2 separate regions of the Homo sapiens genome follow, and region 1 is linked to region 2. Evidence: fine-mapped expression QTL. A gene starts in region 2. The other region holds a variant in brackets. All regions are shown on one strand. Distances are from middle to middle. Region 1 overlaps SCUBE1 (signal peptide, CUB domain and EGF like domain containing 1). Region 2 holds the start of SCUBE1-AS2 (SCUBE1 antisense RNA 2).

Region 1 (8,320 bases), 86 kb after region 2:
CCCTTTTCCCACTGCGGTCCAAACAGGCCTCACCCCCGGCCCCCGAGGAGGGGAGGAAATCATGGCTGCCAAATCTCTTGGGTGGCTTGAGGCCATGACCAGCATCTCTAGGGAAGGGCCTGAGGCCCCACACACGCCTCTTGCACCCCTGTGTCTCCAGCACTTCAAGTGGGCCCCACACTGAGGTCTGAAGAGCATCCAACTGCAGCAGCTGGGTCTGTGAGATGCCGCCCATGAGCCCAGGACAGACTGGGCTCACTTGGAGGCCCTGGCCAGGCCTGGCAGGGCACTATGAGAAACAGTACTTTGGCCCTCTCCAAGAGGTGCTGTGAGCCCAGCACACACCGCCCCATGGTCCCCCAGCATTTGGCACACTCTATTATGAGAGGTGTCCTCATGGAAAAGGGGAACCCACACCTGGGAGTCAGGCTCCCTGAGTTCTGCCCCTGTCTTGCCCTGTAGCCTGTGGGCGATGCCCAGGCCTTATCCCTGGGAAGTGCTCCCAGAGCTTGAGGGATTGCAGACTGCGTCCTCCAGGAAGTCCTCCTGGAATGCCTGTGGTGTGTGCAGCCCTCCTCCTTCTCTGCCCCGTGGAACTGACTGTCAGTGCATGGATGGGTCCTGTGTGGCTGGCCCCGTGTGAGAATCCCAGCCCACCCCCAAGCCCTCACACAGAGGTGAGCGTTGAGGCTGGGCGGGGTTGCCAGCCTCACTACCATAAATAACGGCAATTGCTGCCAGCGAGGCCCCAGCTCAGGCATTATCTTAATAAATCCACACAACAGCTCCACACCGGGGGCATTATTCTTATTATCCCTGATTCTCAGGTGAGAAAACTGGGGCCTGGAGATGGAGAGAGATTTCCTCAAAGCTCTAAAAGAGGCAGAAAGAGAACTGGAAGCCCCATGAATCCAAAGCCCTCCCTCTCCTCCCGCAGGATTCAGCTGTGAATGACGACCCTTCAAGTCCGATGGCGGTAGTGACGAAGGTTCCCAGGTGCTGATGCTTACAAACCTCCCTGGCCCCTCCATGCCCACCTCTCCAAAGCCCAGTGCTCAGCCTCCTCCTCCGTGTAGTCTTTCTGGTGCCCAGCATAATTCACTCCACCCCGGCTTCCAGGCCAGGCCTGCCTTCCTTCACTACTTCCTTCCTCTGCCCTGGACCAGAGGGCTTGCCTATCCTGTCCCCGCCCTGGGGTGAGGACAGATCTGAGTCTCCTTTATATCCTTGCTCCTAGCAGCGGGTCAGGCCAAGAGTGATTACTCAAGTGACAGGAGGGTAAATGGGATGGCACAGTTTGTGCTTGCACACACCAGTGCCAGGGAGCTCACTACCGCCAAGGGACCAGTCCCAGGGGGCAGAGTGCTGTCCTTATTCCCACTGGGCACGAGGGGGGCTTCAGCTGTGAGTGGGCTCTCATAGCCTGCCCACTTCTTCAGCCATGCTCTAGGAATCCGCTGCGGCTGCTCTCTGAACACAGCCCACCCATTCACCTCTGCCCGAGTGTGCATGCCACCCTCCTCCTGGAACTGCCTCCCCTCCTTGTCCAGACCGAAGTTTTTCTTGCCTTCTGAATCCACCTGAAACGCCTCTGTTCATTCACTCACTCCGTGAACACCAAGCACCTACTCTGTGCCACACTACCCCTGAGCTGCCAGGGACACCAAGCTCCAGGGCACTGGGCCAGAGCACAGAGATGGGAGGCTTCCTGGAAGAGGCGAAGTACAAGCTGCTTTGAGGACAGCAGAGAGGTGTGACCTGAGCCTGGGGATCCTGGAGGAGGCGGAGGTGTTCTGAAAGCAAAGGCTCATGGAAGGGGCAGGGCAGGGCCCAGACAGGGAAGGGCCTGCAGCCTCTCTAACAGGAGGAGAGTTCTGGAAGCAACCAGGGAAAGGTGGCTGACAGGGTCCTGGATGCTGGGCTAAGAGGAACAGCAGAGCCAGGCCGTGGGCATGTAGAGTGAGCGAGGCTGCTCTGTGGCCTGCACCCTACCCTGGCGACCCCACACAGCGCTCAAAAACCCCAGCTCTGTTCGGGTCCCCACATCAGTCCAACTAGCAGGGGGACAGTCCCTGCAGAAAACATTTGTGCAGCCTGACACGCAGAGTGTCCCAAACCACTGAGGCCTTGGGCCAGGGCTGAGCCTGCGTGTAGTGAGGCCCCTGAGTGGGCCTGTTTCCAATCCGGGGTCCAGAATCCCTGGGCGGCTCTAGGAGGGGTAGGGGGAGTGTCCCGCCTCTGAATCCTGCTGGCAGCTCATGGTCCTTCATCTTTATTTATGACCACAGCTAAATGTTCCCAGAAGGCACGGAGCTCCTCAGCACAGCACAGGGACTTAGCTACAAAGAGACAGGAGGTCCCCTGGGCTCTGGGGCAGACTCTAGGAGGCTCCTTTCAGGAAATCCTTTCAACTGGTGAGAGAGACGGGGGAGGTAGAGTGGAGAGCGGGCCCTCCATGCCCGGTCCTGGGAGGAGCCTTTCACAGCTGTCTGGACCGGCGTGGTTGAGGCTGGAAGGCACTGGTCCACAGCCTCTTTTGATGTACAACTGTATCTGTGATTGTGCCATCGAACCGCCGGAGCCCTTCCCTCTTCCGGGCCAAGGCTGAAATGGCAGGCAAGGGAGCTGGGAGGAAGAGAAGGTGGAACCTTGGTGGGCCGTGCCACAGGGGCCTTCAGCAGGTGGGGCTGGGAGACCCCCTCGGAAAAAGACCACTCCAGTGAGGTATGGGACAAAAGACAGGGAGCCTGAAGGTCCTTGAAGGCTGCTCCCCGTGAGCTGTGAACTCCCATTCCTTCAGCCCGCAGAGCTGGGGGAGGTCAGAGGTGGGAGAAGGGAAGGACAGGAGTCAAGAAAGGCTGAGCATTTGGAGCACAAAAGAGGGGCCTCACTGGTCAGGGTCTGGCCCTCGTCCCACCCAGCCACCAGGCCTGAGGACCCTGTTGTTCTCGAAGCCCCTTTCTTCTGCCCCTCTCCCAAGGGTCTGACCAAGGCTGCTGACTTTTTCCACGCCACCTTGCCCGTCCATCTCCCTGGCTCCCATGAGACAGCCCTGGCTTGGACCTCAGCTTCCTCTTTGGGGTAGGCTGCACACTTCTCCTGGGTCTCAGCCTCCAGCCTCTCCCTCCCAATCCCTTCTCCATGGGCAGTGGCTGCTGTGATGAGTCTGGCTGGAACAGGACATGGCACCTTGGTCCCACAGGGTCTCTGGGGTCAGGTCCCACCTCCTCACTGTGCAGTACCCAGCATGAGCACAGCTCTGGAGGCCGGGGTGGCGGCGGACGGCCCTCAGCTGTGACTCTTGCCCATCTCCACTCGGTCCTCACAGGCGCAGGCCACCTCCACCTGCTGCCAGCCACTGAAGGGTGATGTGTGGGAGGGGACCCCTGTGCTGTGATTGACATGGTTGTTTTCCAGCAAGAAGAATTTCCAGAGCTGACATCAGCAGGCCATAGGTTGACCCGCTTCCGAAAGGCCTCTGCAGGCAGGACCAGTTTCCCCGGGAGGTGTGCTTCTTGGCCCAAGATGCTGATGTTTGTTTTTATTAATAGCTGGCTGTT[T/C]GTTCTACTTTGGACCAAGAGTCCAGGTTCACAGTTATTTATAACAACTAAAAATTACTTCTGGATCCAGCTCTGGCTGCTTTGTGTTTCCCGCAAATATTTCCCGATTTGAAACAGAGACTCCGTGTTCTGCTTGGACCCACCCATGTTTTCATGGCTGTCAAGAGCCTACTGTGTGTCAGGCCCTCCACTGGCTCCGGTGTCCCAGCTCCCACGGAAGGTCTAGAAACAGAGGCAGAGGTGCCCAGCCCATCTTAGGAAGCGAACTCCACCTCCAGCACGGAGAGCTCCCACCTGGTCCCAGGGGGCTGAGGCCCCCACCGCCTGCCGGCTCCTTTCAGAAGGGCGGCTTAGGCAGAAAAGCCTCTTGGCTATCTAGCGGCTCTTGCAAAATTGCATTTGATGAGTTAAGTGTAAATAAATGAGAACCAGATGGATTAGATTTTGGGTAAAATACACACGGGTCTTAGAGCTTTGGGGCCTGGGTTCTGCCAGATCCAGAACACTCTCCGAGCTGTCAAGAGCTGCTGGCACAGGCGGCAGGAGGTATGCCTGGGGTCTCCCAGGACCTGTCTGCTTCCTGGTCTGGGCATCAGCTGAGGTCTTCCCTGGGGCTCCTGATTCCCCAGCAGGTTGGCCGTGTGCAGAAGACACAGAGCCAACCTCTTGGCCTGGGCCTGAGTCCAAGCTCAGGGTGGGAGATGAGGCGCATGAATGGTAAGGTCAGCTTTCCAGACCAGCAAGCTCACTGCTCACGTCCAAACCCAGCAAGCCAGCCCAGGGAAGGCAGAGGTGGTGAAGCCTGCTGGCCGCTGGGGTCTGCTCACTCTGCTCTCCGCAACCTGAGTCCTGCCTTCCAGCCCAGCCGCTGCCCTGCCGCCCCCTGCTGTGCATCTCTAGGGAAGGACGGGAGTCTACCGCCCAGTGCAGACCGCTGGCCAGTCCTCAAAGGGGTCTGCGTGATGCTGCCCTGTGACCACTGCCCATGGGACCTGGCTGTTGCTCTACAAGTCATACCAGATGGAGTACAAGATTCAGTGAGTCGACTGGGCTTGGTGGCTCACGCCTGTAATCCCAGCACTTTGGGAGGCTGAGGCGGGCGGATCACAAGGTCAGGAGATCAAGACCATCCTGGCTAACACGGTGAAACCCTGTCTCTACTAAAAATACAAAAAATTAGCCGGGCATGGTGGCGGGTGCCTGTAGTCCCAGCTGCTTGGGAGGCTGAGGCAGGAGCATGGTGTGAACCCGGGAGGCGGAGCTTGCAGTGAGCCAGACCGCACCACTGCACTCTGGCCTGGGGCGACACAGCGAGACTCCGTCTCAAAAAAAAAAAAAAGAAAAAAGATTCAGTGAGTCTTTGCTGGTCACTTGCTCTGTGACCTTGAGCAGGTCATTTCACCATTTTGGGCCTTGGTTTCCTTCTCTATAAAACAGGGATAAAAGTCCCTGAGGTGTTTGGGAGTCAAAGGAGGTGATGGAGGTAATGTACTCTGCACAGCGCCTGGCACACACAGACCACCACCGAGTGTGAGCAGGTGCAGCACGAAGCCGCTGCTCATGGCCTCAGGGAATCACGGGTACGAACGTACTCCAGTGACAGCAAAGTCCCTTCCAAAATGCAAAAGCAACAACAAACCACATCAGAGGGGAGCACTCAGACCCGCCTCAGCCTTCTGGTCTCCAAGTGAAGCCGCTCGGCTCCTGACACTGTTCCCTCCTGAATAAGCTTCTGGCACACTCACCACCCAGGTCGCCCTTCTCTGGGGATCCCAGCTTACTGGGGCACTCACAATTGGCCCAGAAGTGGACAGAGCTGTGCACATGGTCTGCTTGGAGGATGTGGGTGGGACTTTTGATGCTATGTTCGTGTGACCTCTGCTATTTCTCCAATCCCGTTTCTGGTTGAGATAGAACTCATGGAGCACACAATTCACAATCTTTAAGCCGACATCTTAGTGGTTTTTAGTATATTCACCGTGTTGCACGACCATCACTACTAATTCCAGAATATTTCCATCATGCCAGAAAGAGGACCTGTGCCCGTTTTCGGTTAGTCCCAATTCCTACCCCTTCGCCCCTGGAAACCACATGTCTACTTTCCATCTATGGTTTGCCCATTCTGGACATTTCATGTAAAGAGAGTCATGCGATATTTGTCTTTGTGTGTCTGGCTTCCTTCACTTAGCATGTTTTCAAGCTGCATCCATGTCGTAGCGTGACTCAGCACTTCATTCCCTTTTACGGCTGAACAGTATTCTATTGCATGGACAGACCACATTTCATGTATCTCTTCGTGAGCTGATGGACATCCGGGTTGTGCTGGCTTTGTGGCTGTTATGAACGGTGCTGCTGAACACTGTGTGTAAGTTTTCGTGGGGGTATACGCCTTCAGCTCTCCTGGGTGGATACCTGGGGGTGGCACTGTCACATCATCTGGTAACTCCATGTGTGCCCTTTTTGAGGAAATGACTGTTTACCACGGGCGACACCGTTTTACATTTCCAACCAGCAAAGTATGGGGTTTCTAATTTCTCCATATCCTCGCCAACACTTGTTCCTTTCTGGGCTTTTTTTTTTTTTTAACAGCCATCCTAGTGGGTGTGGCGTGGTTTCTCATTATGGTTTTGATTTTCATTTTTCTAATGACTAATGATGTTGAACAGCTTTTCACATGCTTAGTGGCCATTTGTATGGCCCTGGGATACAGCGACGCTCAAGACAGACACGGTCCCTGTTCTCACGGGCTCTATGCTGTCTGTGGGGAGACAGAAACAGTCACAAAGACTCCAGGTGGGCGTGGCGTCTCCATCTCTTTGGAGATATGTCTATTCAGGTCCTTTGCCTATTTTTAAACTGGGATGTCTTGAGTTGTAAGAGTTCTTTATACATCCTGGATACTAGACCCTTACCAGATATATGATTGGCAAATACTTTTTCCTATTCTGTGGACACCACCTCCTTTCAAGCAGCCTCAGGCAGCACTAGGTACTCAGGAGTTCAGTGCAGGTCAGTGGGGCCTGGGCTTCTCTCAGGCTCTTCCCTCGCCCCCACCCCATCTACATTTTGTTCCTGGGAGATTTCGCACTGTCCCTTGGCTACCTATCTGCCAAGGTTGCCCCCAAACCCCCAGGCCTGCCAGCTCCACCACCCTCCAACTTAGACATCAAGAGCTGACCTGGTGCCTGCACGTGGACATCCTGCGGGCGTGACAGACTTCATGGGCCGCGTGCTGAACTCCCAAGTCCCCCTCCCACAAAAGCAGAATAGAATGAGACAAAGCTCAGTCTGCCCTCAGCCTTCCCCAGCTCAGCAAATGGTCACACAACCCACAGTTGCTTCAGGCAAAACACCTGGTAGTTATTTTTGATGCTGCTTTCTCCCCACATTGAAGCCCTTAGCAGGTCCAGTCCTTTCAATTCTGCCTGTGAAATTCACCACGAGTACAACACATTCGCTCCCCTCCAGGGCTGCCACGGCTGGGCCAGTCGCCCTCGTCTCTGGCCTGGATTCTCGAACTCCCTGCCTCCATCCTGCCTCTGTCCATCCTCCATCCCTCATGGACCTCATGCCATCCCCCTGCCTGAAAGCCCACAAAGGTGTCATAAACATGAACTCCCTTTCCCGGCCACCAAGCCCACAGGAACTGCTCTGCCCACGTCCCCCCGGGCTCCTCCTCGCTCACCCGCCTCCAGCCAGGCTGCTGTGTCCTGCTCTCCCTTGACCCCAGCTGTCCTGTTCCCATCTCCAGGCCTTGGCATTTGCTCCTCTGCCTGGAATGTTCTTTGCTTGTCTTGGCACGGCTGCCTCCTCCTTCTCCTTCAGACCTCAGCTCACGTGCCGCTTTCCCAGAGATGCTCTCTCTGACCACTAAGCTAAAGTGGCAGACAGGCCATTCTGCAACGTGTCCCTCCCCTGCTTCCTTCAGAGCACGCCCCCACCCACCTGGAATCTTCCTTGTGACTGTTTCTGTCTACCCCCAGGCAACACAGAGCCCCTGAGAACAGGGACCCTGTCTGTTTTGAGCATCACAGTATCCCAGGGTTTTGAACAGTGCACGGGGCACATGATGTATGTCTGCGGACTGGATAACGGACTGAGCACTTCCAAAAGTGTGGGTGGGGAACGGCGCTTCTGGCCTGGACATCCACAGGCCCTGGCTAAAGGCCGTCCCACCAAGGATGAGCTGCATGGCCTTCGCTGCCGTATGCTGCAAAGTGTGGCTGCAGAGGGGCTGCCATGAGGCCCTGCAGCCCCAGGACCTGCTCAAGGAAGCAGCTCTGGATGAGTGACAGGAGCATGTGCTGGCTACCAGTGGGCCGTGGGTGTGTGGGTGGGTCAGGGGCTGACATCAGGAGATGCCAGAGAAGGCTCTCAGAGAAGAGCTGTGCTCATCTGCCGCCTTAGCCTTGCCCGAGAGTGGGGAGCTTGTGCGGAGATCGCGATGGGGAACCAGGTACCCTCACAGTCATTGCCAGCCTGTGGCTTTGGTGCTCAGTGCATGACGGGATCCATGTTGGGGGGCCTCAGAAGAGGGGTGCAGCTCAGCGTCTCCTCCTGCTTTGTCGGCACCTTTACTGACATGAGGACCAAAGTCTCCCACTAAAGAAGCTGCTTGAGCTGGGCAGAGTTTCAGGAAGTGAGTGGAGAGGGAAGCGGTCTGGAGACACAGTGGGATCCCCTACCGAACTACATTTCACTCACTTTGCTAGACCACCTATGGCAAGGCCAGTTCCTCCTTGAACTTCTAGATCACAGGC
Region 2 (8,320 bases):
CATCCAGTCCACCACCCAGCACCTGCACCGAACGCCTGGTCCCCCAAACACAACGGCTTAGTCTTTGTGCTTGCTCCCTCTGCCTCTGAGGCCCTTCCCTACCCTCAACCCGGGTTCTTACTTGTCCTTCTGAGACCCATCTCTGTCCCCTCTTCCAGGAAGCCTCCCTGACTCTCCCCCCATCCCCTCCCAAGATCTTGCTCTGCTCTGGTGAACCCCTTATCACAGGCCCCTCTGTCAGTGGGTCTCCATCTCCCTCCAGCTAACTGCTCCTCGGTGACAGGGCTCAGGCCTGCACTTGGTGCAAGGCCAGGGTGGGAGTGGAAGCTGGGGGAGGACGTGGGAGATGAACTGGCACTGACTGCTGGGACCAGAGGCACAGACTTGGGAAGTCCCTTCTCCCCGAGAGCAAATACACCAGCAAGGCCCACTGAGCCCTGATCTCCCGAGGAGGAAATCAGGAGCCGAGTGCGGCAGCGTGGGTACAGCATGTGACCGGCAGGTGAATCTTCCCAAACTCTGCAAACCATCCTTTTCTCAGACACGGTGACAGTGGGAGCACCCCAGCCCTGCCCAGCCTCTCCCCGCTTAAGGGCTCCTTGGCAAGGCCTCACGGCTCCCTGGGGGCCTTCCCGAGGAGCCCTTCATGGGGGACAGGCTGGGCTTCACTTCAGCTCAGGCTTGTGGTGGGGGACAGAAGGAGGGGATGCTGGGGGCAGGGGAACGGGTGAGGGGAACGGGTGGGGAATGTGGTCCCAGGCCGGTCCCTTGCCCATCCGCACACTGCGGCTTTTGGCTGCTCAGCTGCGTCAGCCTTGCTGACATCCGTCTACTCATTAGCTATGCTGAGCAACTCCTGCCCAGGATAACGCAACTCTGGAGGAGCAGCCCTGGCGCAGACCTCAGGCCCCTCCCCACCCCCTCATCTGGCCGGTCTCTGTGGTCACTGGGTACCCAGAGATGTTCTCTGGCCAGCGTCTGTGGGTGTCTGGGTTCCTGCTCTTCCTTCCCTAACACTCAGACATGGAGCTCGCTCACATGGGCACCCACAGCCCGACAGCAGCGAGGTGCCCTGGACAGGTGCGCTGCAGGTATTTGGCTGGTGCTCGGGTGGCTCAGGGGCCTCCCAGGCATTCCTGCTGCTGTGGCCAGCTGGGCACACAGCGGTCACACCCACTGCTGAGTCCAGTCCTCTCTCATGCCATTCCATCCTTCACTCCCTAAAGTCTCAAGAGGAGCCCTGACGGGGGCGGATGAGCCAGGAGTCCAGGGCTCACAGAGGGGTGGGGAGGGCTCTCTGAGCTGTTATCTTGTGTGGTGCATGGGACGGCCGTGTGGTCCCCCAAACCTCAGCGGGCGGGAGGAGACCCATGGAGCTGGAGCCTGAGGTCTCGCCCTGAGCGGTGCGGCAGAAAGTGGTGGCAAGGGGCCCTGCGGCTGGTCCCGCCACTGGGATGAGGGCCCGGCTCGTGGCCGGAGTTGAGACCAGGCCTGACCATGTCCCAGCATCCACTCTCGGAATACCCTAAGCTCTCCAGATCTTTCCACAGAACTCTGTAAAGCCAGCTCTTAGACCCAAGTGGGTTTCAACCCTGCCTCCCAGGTGGACTCTGAGGGGCTGGTCCTCTGAGCCCCAGGGCCCTCCTCTCTGCCCTGTGAAGGCAGCGATCCCGCCTGGCAGAACCGCAGCGAGACGGGGGTGCACACGCAGCTGAGGCTGCCTCTGGTCCCCTCGGCCCCCAACATACCACTCTTCCTCATGACCAGAACATCGCCGCACTCATCCTCGATGGGCAGGAAGATCTCAGGGACCACGATGAGGATCCTGCGCTTTGGGGGAGGCGCGATGTGCCAGACGCATTCAGCGTTGGCTGGGTAGTCGCCAGGGTAGTTGGGGGACTCGATGTAGCCGGTGTAGTCACCAAGCTCGCCGCCGCAGTGCTGGTCTGTGGGCACAGTGGCCCGAGGGCCTCATCAGGCTCTGCTGGGCAGGGGCCCTGGCCGGCCAGGCCTCTAACCACCTGGGAGGCCTAGGGCAGGGCTGGAAGGTGCTCTTGTCCCCCCCCACACTAGCCCTCGGACCCTGAGCCCATCCTCCTTGGGGACCCTGCCTGGGCTGCCCCCAGAGCAGGAGGGCAGGTCCCCTGTTCAGGCCTGTGGTTCCCTGAGGCCCAGCCTGGGGGCTTCTTCTTACTGGGCTGCCATGCCTGCAGGCCCACCCTATTTCTCTGTGGCTGGGCCTTGTCAGGGGCACTGAGAGGGCCTGGAGCCCTGCTCTCTCTAGAGGCCCTGTCAGTGCCCCTGTAGGCTGTCAGCCCCCCCAGCAGACCCAGAAACTAGAGCAGGGCCTGGCCCAGGGCAGAGGCTTGGGCTGTGTTGGGTGAGCAGTGGGAACTGATGAACGATGGCCACCACTGTGGGCTCCGTAGAGTGGGCCAAGCCAGGGCTGCCCCTTTGGTGCCACAGGCCTCCAGATGGATGCAATGCACCCGAGAGCAGACGGGACGGAGCGGGAGGAGTCCAGTGTCCTCGTGGAGCTCGTGTGAGATCAGGTCTCCTCCCGCCCCCACAACCTGCCCAGCCCCTCCCGTGTTCCCAGCTTCCCACGGCAGAGCAGCAGCACCCACTTTTGCAGTGTGTGACGTTGGTGGAGCCATCGAAGTCTGTGCTGGTGTTGCCCGGACAGGTGATGCAGTGGTTCTGGCCAAACTCGGGCTGGTAGGTGCCGACGGGGCAGCGGATGCAGCGGTGGGTGGTGGTGTTGTAGTGGTGGCCGGGGGAGCAGTGCACTGCCGGGGGACACAAGGCAGTGTGGTGGGTGTGGAGGGGTGCAGGGAAAGGGCAGCACTGGGGTGCTGTCCCCAGGACCTCTCATGCCCTCGAGGTCTGTTTTGGCACAGAGTTCAAGGCTCCTCCCCACCGCCCCATGACCTCCCACCACCCTCACTCCGCCATGGCCAGGAAGAGCCCTTGGCGTGGGGGTCACATGGCAGATTGATGTGATGTTGGCTCCAGCAAAACAGGGACCACACAGGCCACCTTGATGGGAGCCATTTTCAGGGAGAGCGGGGGCGATGATGTGGCCGGAGGCGTGCGGGGGAGACAGGGAGGAGGGGAAGTGGAGCCAGCTAGGCCAAACCCTCTTTCTACAAGGTTGCTGGGGCAGGAGAGACAGGCGGCCGGAGTCTGAGGGGTGCCGGGGCGGGGGGCTAGAGATGGGCAATTCTTTTTTTTTTTTTTTGAGATGGAGCTCGCTCCGTCACCCAGGCTGGAGTGCAATGGTGCCATCTCGGCTCACTGCAACCTCCACCTCCTGGGTTCAAGCGATCCTCCCCTCCCAGTCTCCCGAGTAGCTGGGATTACAGGTGCACATCACCACACCCGGCTAATTATTTTTGTATTTTTTTTAAGTAGAGACAGGGTTTTGCCATGCTAGCCGGGCTGGCCTCAAACTTCTGACCTCAGGTGATCCACCCCCTTTGGCCTCCCAAAGTGCTGGGATTATAGGTGTGTGCCACCGCACCTGGCTTCTTTTTTTAAATGGGCAAATTCAGAACAGTTTGTATGTGCAGGGGAGTATCTGGTGATGTGGCTGGCTCCAGGGGGCTGAGAGCCAGGCCACCTGGACAGACAGACAGACACTGAGAGGGAGCACGGTGGGGAAGCAGGGTCAGCAGCTGAGAATGGGGAGGATTTGGGGGAGTTGGTGAGTGAGGGAAGACGGGATGTAGACCTGGGTGGGACCAGATGCCCTGAACAGACAGCAGTTGAGGTGATGCCCTGATCCCGCTCCTGCCCCCACACTCCTGCCCCCACACTCCTGCCCCCTCCTCACCCTCCCAACCTCCCTTCTAGATGCTGCTCAAGGCCTCCTGTCCCCAGAGCCCTCCCCAGTGCTCCGAGGAGCTGCTGTTCCCCCTGGAGCTCAGAAAGCTCTCAGCTATAAGGTGTCCCTGTCCTAATGCGGGGCACAGTGGGTCACCCACGCCCACGCCTGACAGCTCCAGGCTCCTCCTCTGAGCTGGGAGGTTCGCCACATGGAGGAGATGAGAGGGGTTCGGGGAAGCCTCTCGGAGCAGTGCAGCCCTGCCTCTCGGGGTGGGCGGGCGTGGTGGGGAGGGCATGCTCACCTTTAGCCTCGCAGTCCTGGAAGGAGGTGGTGCCTTCGTGTTTGGTGAGCAAACCCCCTCCACAGGGGAAGCAGCCGGTGCGCCCGGGCTCAGGCTGGTACGTGCCCACGGGGCAGGCCTGGCAGGGCTTGAAGCCATCGGCCGAGAAGAAGCCTGGAGAACACTGGCCTGAAAGTCAGAGGTCATGGCTCAGGCGGGCAGGAGGGCACCGCAGGGCCGAGGCTGTGGGTGGTCTCAGGCCCCGCTCTTGGCCCTTGCCCGGCCCTGGAAAAGGTACTGGGCACCCGAGGCCTGGGGTGGGGACGGGGTGGGGAAAACGCAGCAGCCGGGGTGCAGGAAGCTGGGCCCTGGTCCGGATGATGCCAGCGGTTCATGTGCGGCCTTGGTCAAGCCTGGCTCTCCTTCTCCCACCAGCAAGAAGGCCTGGGGGTTGAAGAGCAAGAGGCCTTGCTGCTGAGCTGGGAAGGGGACCCACAGGTGGAGGGGCAGGTCACGTGTCTCAGAGGGGCTGTCCCCGGGGGGTAGGCTGCACCGGGGTCTCCGCAGAAGGAGCACCTGCTCAGCTTCAGGGTGACGCTGCCTGGTCTACCAGCAGGGCCAGGCCAGAGCAGAGGGAGGCGGGTCTGGGGAGGGTTTCTGAGGTACTCAAGGGCACCCCTGGGACAAAGGGAGGGGACCACAGGAAAGCCAATTTCAGCTCCGAGTAAAGAATGTTCTTGCGTTCCAGCAGACTCAGGATGCAGAGAGTATTCTGGCATTGAGTGAGAGGCGGGTTTAGCACCCTCTCAGCCCAGACCCTGGGATTCTCAGCTTCTACCCAAACACGGAATCTCCTACCAGTGGCCACTCCCCCAGGGGTGGAGACCACACTCCTGGAGTGGGCGTGGGCCAGAGAGCAGCCGGCAGCCTGGACGGACTCAGGGCTGGGCTCTGAGCCCTTCCATCACCGGGAGAAAGCTGGAGGTCTCCAGTATCCTGGGACCCCACTCCCCCACCCTCACAGGCACTGTGCTTCTCAGGGTGCTGAGAACCTTCCCCGCGGATTCTCTTGGGTGAAACTCACAGTGGCCTGGGAAGAAAGGCTCATGGGGAGACTGAGCTAGCTTCACAGATGGAGTTAAGTGGGGAGAGGGAGGTAAATGCAAAAGCTCTTTGCAAACCTAACTGCATTTGGTAAATTGAAAAAGGGCTTTCTAAACCGTCTGTGGGGCACATAATAAAGTTCTTTGTGTGGAGCAAAGTTCTTGCTCAAGTATAAGATACTCTCTGCAAAGTGTTCCAGTTGTAATGGAATGTTCCGTAAAATGTAAGCTGTCTAGTCCACCATAAGGCACTTATGTACCTCCCTTAGAAACCGTAAGTTGCACACTGTGAAGTCCTTTCCAAAGGGCACAATGCAATTCTGAGAGCACACCGAGTGCAGTGCAGCGCTCAGCACTGTAGTGCAGGCCGGGACTGCTGACGCTTTGGGATCTGTCACGCACTTTGTAAGTGATGACTGCACAGACATCGTGAAGGGTTTTGGAAACGACAAGGAACTTTAGAAAATACCACACTCTCTGGCCACACCAGGCACCTGGGCCTTCGACAGGAGGGCCTCATCAGAGACAGGAGGAGCCCCCGCCCACCCCCCACCCCCACCTCTCCTTCTAGGCCCGCACTTGCCTCCACATTCCGACACGTTGCGGGCACCAGGCAGACCAAGCCCGTCGCTGCTGGGGCACGGTGTGCAACTGAGCTGGCCTTCCATGTCCTGGTATGTTCCTGGCATACATGACACACACTGGCCGAGCTCACCACCGAAGTGGGTGCCAGGCCCACAGGCAACTGCAGAGGCAAAGCGGAGAGGCTGCTGGAGGCAGAGGTGGGGAGGCCAGGGGTGTCTCCTGTGTGCTCAAGCCCAGGCTCTCCTGATAGACACAGTCCTTGTCCCCTGGGGCCCCAAGGACACAGAGGGGCCCCTGACCTATCCCAGAAGAGCCTGGGGCAAGACCCAGGAGGCAGCCATCTGTGAGGGCCATGAAGCCTGGCCCCTCTGGCTGCTGCACCTCAGAGTCCTCTGTGGACCCCTCCATCTCCACCCGCTTATAGAAGCCTGTGGTCCCCACCTCCCCCATACGTCTGTCCTCTGTCTGCTCCACACCCTGCCCTCCAGCTTTAGCAAACTGCCTCCTGGATGTCGCCACTTGGATATGCTACAGTCATTTCACCCCGAAGCTCCCCTGTCCTTCCTGAGTGGAGGAGTTAGGGGCAGTGGGGAGGGACTGGGGCTCAAATAGGCAAGGGCAGGAGGGCCTGGCGGGCGAGGTGGGAGGGGCGTAGCGAGGAGATGATGGGCTGAAGACAGCGCAGTCTGGTTGGCTACACTGAACAAATACGTCGACTGATGAGTAAGTAAGGAAACTGAGTAAATCAGTAAATTCAGGAGAAAGGGAGCCGAGTTTCTCAGTGCTGGAGAAGATGCTTACAAATGCGGAAATGGGGAGTGAAGGTTAGAAAAGACCCTGAGGTGTGGAACGGGAGGCACTGGCATGAATTCATGGTTTTAGAACCCCCCCACCCATAGATTCCCATGCCTGTGTGTGCACGTGTATACACATCTATGCTTTCCAGTTCTGTCCGATGAGAGGGCCTAGAGGCAGTGGTACTCCAGGAGCAATGAATATCCCAGATTTTGGTTTCTACCCATCATCCTCCTCTCAAAGGAACCAGGGGTCCTTGGGGATTTGGCTGATGCCAGGGGATGGAGAGTGTCAGTTGGATCTGAAGGGGAGGCTCGCAGCATGTGTGTGGCAGGTCAGACAGACCCAAGAGCCAGCTTGGTGGGGCATCCCTGGCTACCCTGGGGACACAGTGAGCGCCGAACTAAATAACATCAGGAATGGATCACCACGCAATGAGTAAGGGGAATCTGAGTCTATAGGGATACAGACCCAGAGGTAAACGGCCATGGCCACCCACTTTCCTACAGGAGAATGTGACTAGTGAGCGTGGAACATGGAACAAATGGTAGAGGTGGCTGACATGGCGGGAGCTGTGCAGAAGTTTGATGAGGAGGAGAATATTGGTCCAAACTCAGAAAACACTCATCAATCACAGAGAGAAAATGGCGAGTGAAAGTGAAGCCAGTGGCGGGCTGGGGGTATCCTGTGCCTGCTGATGGGGCACCCAGGATTAGGCCTCGAAGCTGAGGTTCCTGCTGGACCCTGGGCCCTGAGTCAGGTCCCCAGGAAAAACCAGAGGGAGCTCTGAGCGTTAGCCTAGAGGAGGTGAGTTTGGGACAAGGGCAGGAGAGGCAGGGAAAGGGGAGAAGCGGCTCCAGACTGAAGGAGCCTGAAGACACAGTGGAGGGTGACATGTCTTTCTGGATGGGAGCTGGGACCAGAAAAACAAAAGGGACATTGTTGGAAGGATTGCTGGAGCTGAATGGGGTGGGTGTGTGGGTTGGATGGTGAAGACTACACACTCACACATGCATGCACACTCACACACATGCACACGTGTGGGAGACGGGGCAGATGTGGTCAAATGTGCACAATTGGGGAATTTGGATGAAGAAAATATGGAAGTTTTTTGTTCTGCTTGACAATGTTTCTGAAACTTTGAAATAATTTCAAAATAAGTTATTTATTTTTATTTTGGGATGGAGTCTCGCTCTGTCACCCAGGCTGGAGTGCAGTGGTGTGATCTCAGCTCACTGCAACCTCTGCCTCCCAGGTTCAAGTGACTCTCCTGTCTCAGCCTCCCCAGTAGCTAGGATTGCAGGCGCTCGCCACCACACCCAGCTAATTTTTGTATTTTTAGTAGAGACGGGGTTTCACCATGTTGGCCAGGCTGGTCTCAAACTCCTGACCTCAGGTGATCCACCTGTCTCGGCCTCCCAAAGTGCTGGGATTACAGGCGTGAGCTACCATGCCCGGCCCAAAATAAGTTATTGAAAGTAGAAGAGGCTGGGCGCAGTGGCTCACACCCATAATCCCAGCACTTTGGGAGGCCGAGGTGGGCAGATCATGAGGTCAGGAGTTTGAGACCAGCCTGGCCAACATAGTGAAACCCTGTCTCTACTAAAAATACAAAAATTAGCCGGACACGGTGGCGCGCACCTGTAGTCCTAGCTACTTGGGAGGCTGAGGCAGTAGAATAGGTTGAACCTGGGAGGCAGAGTTGCGGTGAGCTGAGATTACACCATT

The links.
Region 1: its variant is fine-mapped to the expression of SCUBE1-AS2 in aorta (GTEx, PIP above 0.99).

The regions. Positions count from the first base shown.
Region 1 is chr22:43,294,167-43,302,486 of GRCh38, forward strand. All of the region lies in intron 3 of SCUBE1 (signal peptide, CUB domain and EGF like domain containing 1), which reads right to left. Among named protein-coding and RNA genes, the nearest start is that of SCUBE1-AS1, 22 kb to the left of the region's middle. RefSeq lists enhancers at 6,271-6,772, 6,773-7,272. The variant T/C (reference allele first, on the strand shown) is at 3,561.
Region 2 is chr22:43,208,295-43,216,614 of GRCh38, forward strand. It overlaps SCUBE1-AS2 (SCUBE1 antisense RNA 2), which reads left to right and starts at 4,380. Exons shown (of 2, transcript NR_134632.1): 1 at 4,380-4,403; 2 at 4,861-5,367. It overlaps SCUBE1 (signal peptide, CUB domain and EGF like domain containing 1), which reads right to left. Exons shown (of 22, transcript NM_173050.5): 16 at 5,796-5,957; 17 at 4,131-4,298; 18 at 2,628-2,789; 19 at 1,749-1,946.